Linked DNA regions of Homo sapiens. The protein of the gene in region 2 purifies or fractionates together with the protein of the main gene of each other region. This does not show direct contact. Each region holds a gene or a part of one and is shown on either strand. Other genes may lie near its edges. The genes, in order: DCAF6, PCSK1 and ITIH2.

Region 1 (3,659 bases), on a different chromosome or scaffold from region 2:
CAAGTGGGTTTTATACCAGGAATGCAAGGATAGGTCAACATATGCAAATCAATAAATGTGATACATCATATCAACAGAATGAAGGGCAAAAACCATATGATCATCTTAATAGACGCGAAAAAAGAATTTAATAAAATTCAACATCCCTTCATAAGAAAAACCCTTAGTAAACTAGGCACAGAAAGATCATACCTCAAAATAATAAAGGCCATATATGATAAACCTGTAACTAACATCATACTGAATAGGGAAAAGATGAAAGCATTCCTTTAAGAACTGGAAGAAAACAAGGATGCCTACTTTCACCACTCTTCAATATAGTATTGGAAGTCCTAACCAGAGCAATCAGGCAAGAGAATGAAACAAAAGGCATCAAAATTATAAAGGAAGGAGTCAAATTATCCCTGTTTCCTGATGATATGATCTTATATCTAGAAAAACCTAAAGACTCCCCACAAAAACTCTTAGATTTGCCAGGCGCGGTAGCTCATGCCTGTAATCCCAGCACTTTGGGAGGCTGAGGTGGCCAGATCACCTGAGGTCAGTAGTTCAAGACCAGCTGGCCAACATGGTGAAACCCTGTCTCTACTAAAACTACAAAAATTAGCCGGGTGTGGTGGCACATGCCTGTAATCCCAGCTACTCGGGAGGCTGAGGCAGGAGAATCACTTGAACCCGGGAGGCAGAGCTTGCAGTGAGCTGAGATTGTGCCATTGCACTCCAGCCTGGGCAACAGAATGAAATTCTGTCTCAAAAAAAAAAAAAAAAAAACCCTTAGATTTGGTAAATGAATTCAGTAAACTTGCAAGATACAAAATCAACATACAAAAATTAGTAGTGTTTCTACACACCAATAATGATTCAAAATGAAAACCAAATCAAGAACACAATCCCATTTACAATAGCTACAAATAACAAAAAAAAAAAGGCCGGGTGTGGTGGCTCACGCCTGTAATCCCAGCACTTTGGGAGGCCAAGGTGGGTGGATCACAAGGTCAAGAGATCGAGACCATCCTGGCCAACATGGTGAAACCCTGTCTCTACTAAAAATACACACACACACAAAAATTAGCTGGGCATAGTGGTGCGCACTTGTAGTCCCAGCTACTCTGGAGGCTCAGGCAGGAGAAGTGCTTGAACCTGGGAGCCGGAGGTTGTAGTAAGCCGAGATTGTGCCACTGCACTCCAGCCTGGGTGACAGAGTGAGACTCCGTCTCAAAAAAGAAAAAAAGAAAAAAGAAATTATAAACACACACATACACACACACACAAACTAGGAATATATTTAACCAGAGGTAAAATCCCTACAAGGAGAACTACAAAACACAGCTAAAAGAAATTATACATGACACAAATGGAAAAACATCCCATGATCACTGGATATTCAGAAGAATATCATTAAAATGACCATACTGTACAAAGCAGCCTACATATTCTATACAATCCCTATCAAAATACCAAGTTAATTTTTTGCAAAATTAGAAAAAACAATCCTAAAATTCATATGGAACCAAAAAGAAGCCCCAATAGCCAAAGCAATGCTGAGCAAAAAGAATAAAGCTAGAGGCATCACATTATCTAACTTCAAATTATATTACAAGACTATACTAACCAGAACAGCAGGTTACTGGTATAAAAATAAGACACACAGGTCAATGGAACAGCATAGAGAACCCAGAAATAAAGCCGCATACTTGCAGCCAACTGATGTTTGACAAAGCCGACAAGAACATACACTGTGGAAACGAAACCCTCTTCAATCAATGGTGCTGAGAAAATTAGATATCCATATGCAGAAGAATGCAATTGAACTCTTATCTCTCACTAATACATAAAAATCAACTCAAGGTGGATTAAAGACTTAAGTGTAAGACCCAAAACTATAAAGATACTAGAAAACAGACAAATGGGACTCAATTAAACTAAAAAGCTTCTGCATGGCAAAAGAAATAACAGATTGAAGAGACAACCAATCCTGTTGAATGACAGAAAATATCTGCAAATTATTCATCCAACAGGGGACTAATATCCAGACTACACAAGGAACTCAAACGATTCAACAACCAAAAAAATCTAACAATCCTATTAAAAAGTAGGCAAAACACATGAATAGACATTTTTCAAAAGCATACACCCAACAGGTATATGAAAAAATGCTCAACATTACCAGTCATAAGAGAAATGCAAATCAAATTCACAATGAGATATCACCTTATCCTAGTCAGAATGTCTTTTATTAAAAAGACAGACAATGTTGGTTATCATGTGAAAAAAAGGGAACTCTTATATACCATTGGTGGGAATGTAAATTAGTACAGCCTCTATGGAAAACAGTATGGAGATTTCTCCAAGAATTAAAAATAGAACTATCTTTCCATCTAGCAATCCCACTACTAGATTTTTACAAAAAGAAAAGAAATTAATATATCTAAAAGATATGTGCACCAGTATGTTTACTGCAGCACTATTCACAACAGCAAAGATATGGAATCAACCTAAGTGTCCATCAATGGATGAACAGGTAAAGAAAATGTGGTATATATACACAATGGAATACTATTCAGCCATAACAAAGAATGAAATCAGGCTGGGCGTGGTGGCTCACCCCTGTGATCCCAGCACTTTGGGAGGCCGAGGCGGGCAGATCACAAGGTCGGGGGATCGAGGCCATCCTGGCTAACACTGTGAAACCCTGTCTCTACTGAAAATACAAAAAAAAAGTTAGTCAGGTGTGGTGGCGGGCACCTGTAGTCCCAACTACTTGGGAGGCTGAGGCAGGAGAATGGCGTGAACCTCGGAGGCGGAACTTGCAGTAAGCCGAGATCTCACCACTGCACTACAGCCTGGGCGACAGAGTGAGACTCCATCTCAAAAAAAAAATGAATGAAATCATGACATATACAGCAACGTGGATGGAACTAGAGGTCATTATCTTAGGTTAAACAAACCAGGCACACAAAGACAAGTATGATGTTCTGACTCATAAGTGTGTTCTAAACAAACGTGTTCACACAGATGCAGAGTGGAATGATACATAATGGAGTGGAAGAATGAGGAGGTGGGAGGATGATGAGAAATTCGTTAATGAGGACAAAGAACGTTATTCAGGTGATGGATACCTTAAAAGCCCTCACTTGACTGCAGCATAATCTATGCATGTAACAAAACTGCATATGTACCCATAAATTTGTACAAATAAAAAGTAAAAATAAATAAAAATATCATCTAAAATAGCATTACAAATATGAAATATTTAAGGATAAACCTAACACCAAAAAATACAAATCACTGCTGAGAGAATCAAAGAATGCTTAATACACGGAGACAAACCAGAACCACAGATGAGAAGATTCATATTGTAAACATGTCAGTTCTCCCTGAAATAATATATAGATTCAACACAAAATCCCAAGTCTTTTTGTAGAAATTGACAAGCTAGTTCTAAAATTTTTATGGAAATAGAAAGGGTTCAGAATAGCCAGGATAACTATAAATTTTTTTAAAAAAGACCAAATTTCGGCCAGGCGCGGTGGCTCACGCCTGTAATCCCAGCACTTTGGTAGGCCAAGGCGGGCAGATCACAAGGTCAGGAGATCGAGACCATCCTGGCTAACGCGGTGAAACCCCATCTCTACTAAAAAAATACAAAAAAATTAGCC
Region 2 (2,867 bases):
GTCTTGTCCATGTGGTTCTTCAAATTTTGATGCCAAGAAAGTATTTGGTAGGCCTAATGAAGGAGTTCACTGTAAGACTCATTCCCTAGATCTTTCTATTCCAAAGTGCCACTCATTCCTGTAGTCAAAATCTGGTCATGTTGGTCAAAAGCTGGATTATTTAGATCTAGAAACAGATCTTGAAATCTGAATGCTCTGGTTTGAGCAATTTTCGAACATTCTTTGCCTGGTGCACTGTGTCTGTGGTGCCAGAGGCGTCCGTGGATCCAGAGGTGGTTATGACTCGTGCTGCATGCCTGGTCTTTCCTCTGTTTCTCCTTCTGAAAGTTTTCTATACCTGTCTCCTTTCTCAGCCACAAAATAAATGTTGGGAGAAATGATATATACCACTTTCCCAGAAAAAAAAAAACTTACACTTGGGACTTGGCAAATTCCTAGTCACAATTTTTTTCAGCAGTAACAGGAAACCACTTATCACATGGAGACCTAATGTAATAATAGAAAAATACTCATAATAGGGAGAAACCAAGAGAAGTTTTGTTTTTGTTTTTTTCCAACTGTGTTCATTAGAACAGCGTGTTCTAAGTATTTGAAACTGAATGTTTATTCCTTGATACTAAAAGTTCTTCTCCAATCCTATCACTGATAGTGTCCAAATTCTCACCAAATTGCTCCTAAGCTTCAAATCAGAAGCAGAAACTGGCAGGCCATGGACCTTAATTGTCCCTCAGGTAGATTTTGTTTGGTATGCAGAATGTTTTTAAAATATGAGTGGTTATTGAAAATATGATGTTTCACATAAAACCTCATTCTCGGACCCATCTTTGCTCATGGCAACAGTTAGCTGGAGCTGAGTAGCAGCTGCCTGATTAGATGACTCTCAGTCCCCATGGCACCCTGCTCCATGTTACCTAGAGCAGGCACTTGATTCCTTGCTGGGCAGTATCCAATAGGCATTTGATTTTGCCCACTCCTACACTAAGCGAATGTGTACAAAGTGTAAATGCATTAGGAAAAACAAACTACCCGCATCTTCTGTTAGGCAGGATCTGTACAATAATAATTATGAGTTTGCTTATGTAATCTCACCTCACCTGGATGATCACTAATACTAATTCATTTATTACTAACCTTCTGGCTTCCTTCTCTCAATATGCTTACAAAGTCTCCAGTCACCTACAATGCTGGCTTTCTCCCACTGAGTTTGCTGTTTGCAATTTTTCCATGAAGTTTGAACTTCATAAGGTAATTCATGGCATTGAACTGGTTCATGAAAAGAACACTAGAGTCTGTCATTTGCTTTGGCTTGAAGTATGGTTGGTAACACAAATTTTCACCTGCTCTTCTACCATTTGAATTTGTGTAGAGGGTGTTTGCAGAGCAATGCCCGTAATGCTTAGAGAATGTTCTCCTAAAAGACTTGCGGAATCACTCTGTCCTTGGAAGTTTCATATATTGTTTGATATGAAGTGTTAGATAGAATTTCCAATATTGGAGCATATCAAAAAGTATTAAAACTAAAAAGGACCAGAGAATTCTTAGATTGGCCCGGAAAGGCCAATAAAGAGTTAGAATGAAAACTCATTACTTTTCCATTCCCAATCTAGTGCTAGATGTATAAATCTTTCTTTTGATTCTTCCTAACAAAATATTTTCTGGGTTAAAACCCCAGCCAACTCATTGGGTTGTAGCCAAAGGTTCACTCTCAAGAAGCTTTAATATTTAAATAAAATCATATTGAATGTTTCCAACCTGGAGTATAATATTCAGATATAAAACAGTTTTGTCAGTCTTTCTTAGTGCCTGTGTGGATTTTTGTGAAAATGTCAAAGAGAAAACTTATATACTATTTCCCTTGAAATTTTAAACTATATTTTCTTTACAGGTATTTATAATATACCAATGCTTTTATCAAACAGAATTTTAAAGAGCATAATAAATTATATTAAAGAACCAAAAGTTTTCCTGAGAATAAGAAAGTTTCACCCAATAAAATATTTTTGAAAGGCATGTTCCTCTGTCAATGAAAAAAAGTACATGTATGTGTTGTGATATTAAAAGTGACATTTGTCTAATAGCCTAATACAACATGTAGCTGAGTTTAACATGTGTGGTCTTGGTATTCTTAAGGGAACTTCCACATTATACATTTGATGTATTGACCAGAATATGTAAAATATGCTTATAAATCAGAAAAATAAATTGTTTCTCACTAAGTCAAAAGAAAAAAAGCTCATGTTTCCACCACAAACAAGATCTCCCTCTTTTATTGTGTTTCCCAAATGGACTATACAAAAGAAAAGCTGACAGTTTACATTAAGGAGTTAATTCCTTTTTAGGAAATTGGGCTTTCTTGGAGTCAATTTAAGAATCTACCTGAACAAGGTATGTTTTATTTTCCTCTCTAGCCCATCCTTCACTTTCTTGACAACATGCAAAGCTGTATGACTGAGCCTTAACTGAAATGTTGAGAAATGAACAAACTATCTAAACTAAACTAAACAGACTTACTACATGTAAGAGAAATGATTCCCAACATTTCACCAAATAGGACTTAGTTTACAGGCTAGAGTAAAGCAGCTAAGTGTGAAATCCTTCCCAGAGGTTCTCTCATTAGAACCCTCAAAGTTCCAACTTTTTTTTTTTCTTTTGCTAGAGTCTCACTCTTTTGCCCGGACTACAGTGCAATGGCATGATCATGGCTCACTGCAGCCTCCACATCCCAGGCTCAAACGATCTTCCCACCTCAGCCTCCCTTGTAGCTGGGACTACAGGTGTGCACCGCCACACCCAGCTAATTTTTGTGTTTTTTGTAGGGACAGGTTTCGTCATGTTGCCCAGGCTGGTCTCAAACTTTTGGGCTCAGG
Region 3 (3,659 bases), on a different chromosome or scaffold from region 2:
TTATCTCTTACTTGTTCCCAAATTTAAATACGATGCCTGGTACTGACAAAGAGCAGGGAAAAACATGTTCTTTCCCTACATCATTTTCTCATCTATTTAATCAAAACAAACAAGTAGTTTGTGTCTTTTCAATATATGTATTTTAATTAAAAAAATTATCTGTTGAACAGATGGATCTCACTATGTTGCCCAAGCTGGCCTTAAACCTCTGGGCTCGAGTGATCCTCCCACCTTGGCCTCCAAAGAGCTGGGATTACAGGCATGAGCCACCACACTCAGCCTGTATCTTAATACTTAAGAAAATTTACACTGTGAAAAATTGATACCAAGATGCCAATGCACGTTAAAGAGAAAACGGTTGGCCATGATGATAAGAAGACCAATTGCTGGTGGGGCAGGAGAGCTACAAGGAGCTTTGATGACGCTCAGAAGGCCTTTTTGTTCAGGGGGTAGGACAGCTGTTCCCAACACCCATCTGCCTCATACCTCACTGTTACTGCAGAAATATGAGGGTGGGGGGAAACATGTGAGAAAGGAACTGGGCACTTCCCTGATCCTTGCAACCAAATATGGCTGAGATCATGACCATTTTGAGTTAAGTTCAGTTATGCATCATACCTGCATCAGATATGGGTAGTTAAATGATTTCCAGTGAAGAATAAAAAAAGAACAGAAGAAAATGTTACCTTAAGCTGGGAAGACGTGTCCTGGTTTCCATAAATCCTTTGTGCAATTCCATGGTTTTCATTGGACAGTCTCTTCAAAAAATCATAGTCCACATCAAATCCCATGCCCAAACTGAACAAGGAGATATTGTCTTGGATGTTCTCCTTAACGTTTTTCTGAATTTTTGACAGTTTTAGTTCGCCTAAAGTTGGTGATGTCCGAAAGGAAAGGAATGAAGAAGCAATATCATAAATTTTCTGGAAAATCCAGGGAGGGCAGTTTAGTAAAGTGTGTCCAGATTAAAACTGCATTTCCCTTTTGACCCAGTAACTCAATTTCTAGTTTTTCTTAGAGATGCACTCGTACATGTTGAAATGAAGTGTGGGTTGTGTTGCATAGCAACATTATTTGGGAATTAGCAACATATTGGAAACAACATAAATATGCACCAATGAGGGCGCTTGGTTAGATGATGATACATTTAAACCGTGAGATACTATGCAGCTATTAAAAAGGACATGGAAACTCCTTATGTATGTATACCAGACAATCTCAAGGGCATGTTTAGAGGAGAAAAAAAAAACAAGGTAAATATCAGGGTACCTAGGATGCATTTGCATGCATGCATGTATAAATGTATGTATGTGTATGTATGCATATACACATACATGTGTGCAAACATGTATATATAGTATACAGGCATGCATAAACTATTTGTGGAAAGATACACAAGAAACTGGTAACCAGTGACTGATTCCAGGGACAGGAACTGAATGGTTGAGAAACAGGAGTGAGAAACCATGATTAAACCAAATTATGGTTTAATTTTGTTTTTTTTTTTGAGACAGAGTCTCACTTTGTTGCCCAGGCTGGAGTGCAGTGGCACGATCTCAGCTCACTGCAACCTCCGCCTCCTGGGTTCAAGGGATTCTCCTGTCTCAGCCTCCCGAATAGCTGGGATTACAGGCACACGCCGCCCTGTCAGGCTAATTTTGTATTTTTAGTAGAGATGGGGTTTCACCATGTTGGCCAGGCTGGTCTTGAATTCCTGACCTCAGGTGATCCACCCACCTCAGCCTCCCAAAGTGCTGGGATTACAGGTGTGAGCCACCATGCCTGGCAAGTTTAATATTTTAAACTATATTTCCTTTTCCACCTTATGATTTCATTCAAAACTTGAATTTTGAAAATAATCTGATCTGAGGGAGAAAACATTGGCTCTACAACAAATACATAACACTGGCTCATTCTAGTCTCGTTATTAATAAGATGGTTGCTCTCTGGCTTTCTAAAGCTCTGACTGCCATTGTTTTTGCCTCGTGCATTTTCATTCTGCTTGGCTGTGTCAGGACGTGTTAGACTCGGTCCTAGTCTGTACGACAGCACACTCAGGCAACACAATCTGGCATTCGCTATTACTTACAGTGGCCAGAATAAAGACACAAGTAAAACAAAGATAGCTTGGCACAGTGGCTCACACCTGTAATCTCAACATTTTGGGAGTCCGAGGTGGGAGGACTGCTTGAGCCCAGGATTTTGAGATCAGCCTGAGCAACATAGTGAGACTTCGTCTCTCCAAAAAAAAAAAGAAAGAAAAAAAAGAAATTAGCTGAGTGTGGTGGTGCACACCTGTAGTCCCAGCTACTCAGGAGGCTGAGGTAGGAGGATCACTTGAGCATGGGAGGTTGAGGCTGCAGTGAGCTGTGTGTGCTCCACTGCACTCCCTCCTGGGTGACAGAGCAAGACCCTGTCTTCAAAAATAAATAAAATAAACTAATGTAACAAAAATAAAAATAAATAATAGAAGTAGGGAGATGTTGCTGCCCATTTTGTAGAAAGAAAAATGTTTAACTTCAAGGTTGTGTCAGAGAGCAGTCATTTCTCCAGGTGCAACCGGGAGAAGTGTGGAGAATAATAGGGAATATGCTACTGTGGCCTCCAAAGGTACTGCTGGGAGATCTGGGATCAATACTCATCATTCACCACCCCCATACACCATCTTCACATACCTCAAGTTGAGGAAATAGATGCATTTCCCTAGAATGCATCAGCAATCCTCACAACATACTATTAAAATTCAGACTCAGATTTCTGCATATTGTGGAGGTGGAACTGAGGCATTCAAGAGCGCCCTTGCTGAAAGTGTCTGAGCAGTAGCTTAAGGGGTGAGGGCTGCAGGATCAGAAGACCTCCTTTAGGAAGCATGGGTTTAAAATGTTCTAGAAACTCAGGCAAATGCCATTAGAGTTCCCCTTTTAGGCAAACCACCATTCCAAGAAACAACAGTGAAAGTGTTTGTCGTGAGAAGGTTGAAGTGACACTTGCCCACTGTTGGATCTCCATCAGAAACCAAAATGATCAGCGAGACGGAGTTGGGGTCTAACAGTCCCAAGTTATTGGCTTCATTCAAAATGAAGATTGCCCGTAGGAGTGCTTCGTTGATGTTTGTGCCTGTTGAAGTAGCATAATGAAACGTTGGGTATGCGTTCTCGCCACACGCAGAAAATCCCATTCTGGATTCAGACTCATATGTCGGCTGATCACTTATCCATCACTTATTCCATGCCAAAATCATTTCATTGCTTTCTGAGTGACACAAACTGTGCTCAAGCTGGTGGTCCCCCAGTGCAGTGAAATATTCACTTTGAAATAAACTATCCCCTTAGAGATGAACTAGCCCTTTCAAAGCACAGACTGTTAGCTTGTTAAACACCAGATTAAAGTATCCAAATCAGCCTTGCCAAGATACTCTGAAGATAGTAACATTTTATGCTTTATGCAGGCAATAAAGAAGGCCAGTGTCACTGAACCTTTTTCTGAGAGACATTAAAACGGTTCAAAGCTTATGTGGGCTGTATTACAAATTCTACTTTCACTACAAACTTAGCATTCATCCATTACCAATAAATGTATTATTTAAGATAGGCCCTCGAATGCTGGGGAAAGACCACTGTGATGGGAATAATGCTTCTTAAGTGAATCATGATTTGAAC

What was found.
Region 1: the proteins of PCSK1 (region 2) and DCAF6 purify together in Homo sapiens (affinity purification with mass spectrometry; one large-scale study listed by BioGRID and IntAct). This does not show direct contact.
Region 3: the proteins of PCSK1 (region 2) and ITIH2 purify together in Homo sapiens (affinity purification with mass spectrometry; one large-scale study listed by BioGRID and IntAct). This does not show direct contact.

What each region holds. Positions count from the first base shown.
Region 1 is NC_000001.11:167,943,068-167,946,726, reverse strand, and holds part of DCAF6 (DDB1- and CUL4-associated factor 6), read right to left. Parts: intron 1-3,659. UniProt on the Homo sapiens protein: Ligand-dependent coactivator of nuclear receptors. Enhance transcriptional activity of the nuclear receptors NR3C1 and AR. May function as a substrate receptor for CUL4-DDB1 E3 ubiquitin-protein ligase complex.
Region 2 is NC_000005.10:96,389,717-96,392,583, reverse strand, and holds the end of PCSK1 (neuroendocrine convertase 1 isoform 1 preproprotein), read left to right. Parts: 3' UTR 1-2,251; downstream 2,252-2,867.
Region 3 is NC_000010.11:7,727,161-7,730,819, reverse strand, and holds part of ITIH2 (inter-alpha-trypsin inhibitor heavy chain H2 precursor), read right to left. Parts: intron 3,118-3,659; coding exon 2,992-3,117; intron 869-2,991; coding exon 687-868; intron 1-686. UniProt on the Homo sapiens protein: May act as a carrier of hyaluronan in serum or as a binding protein between hyaluronan and other matrix protein, including those on cell surfaces in tissues to regulate the localization, synthesis and degradation of hyaluronan which are essential to cells undergoing biological processes.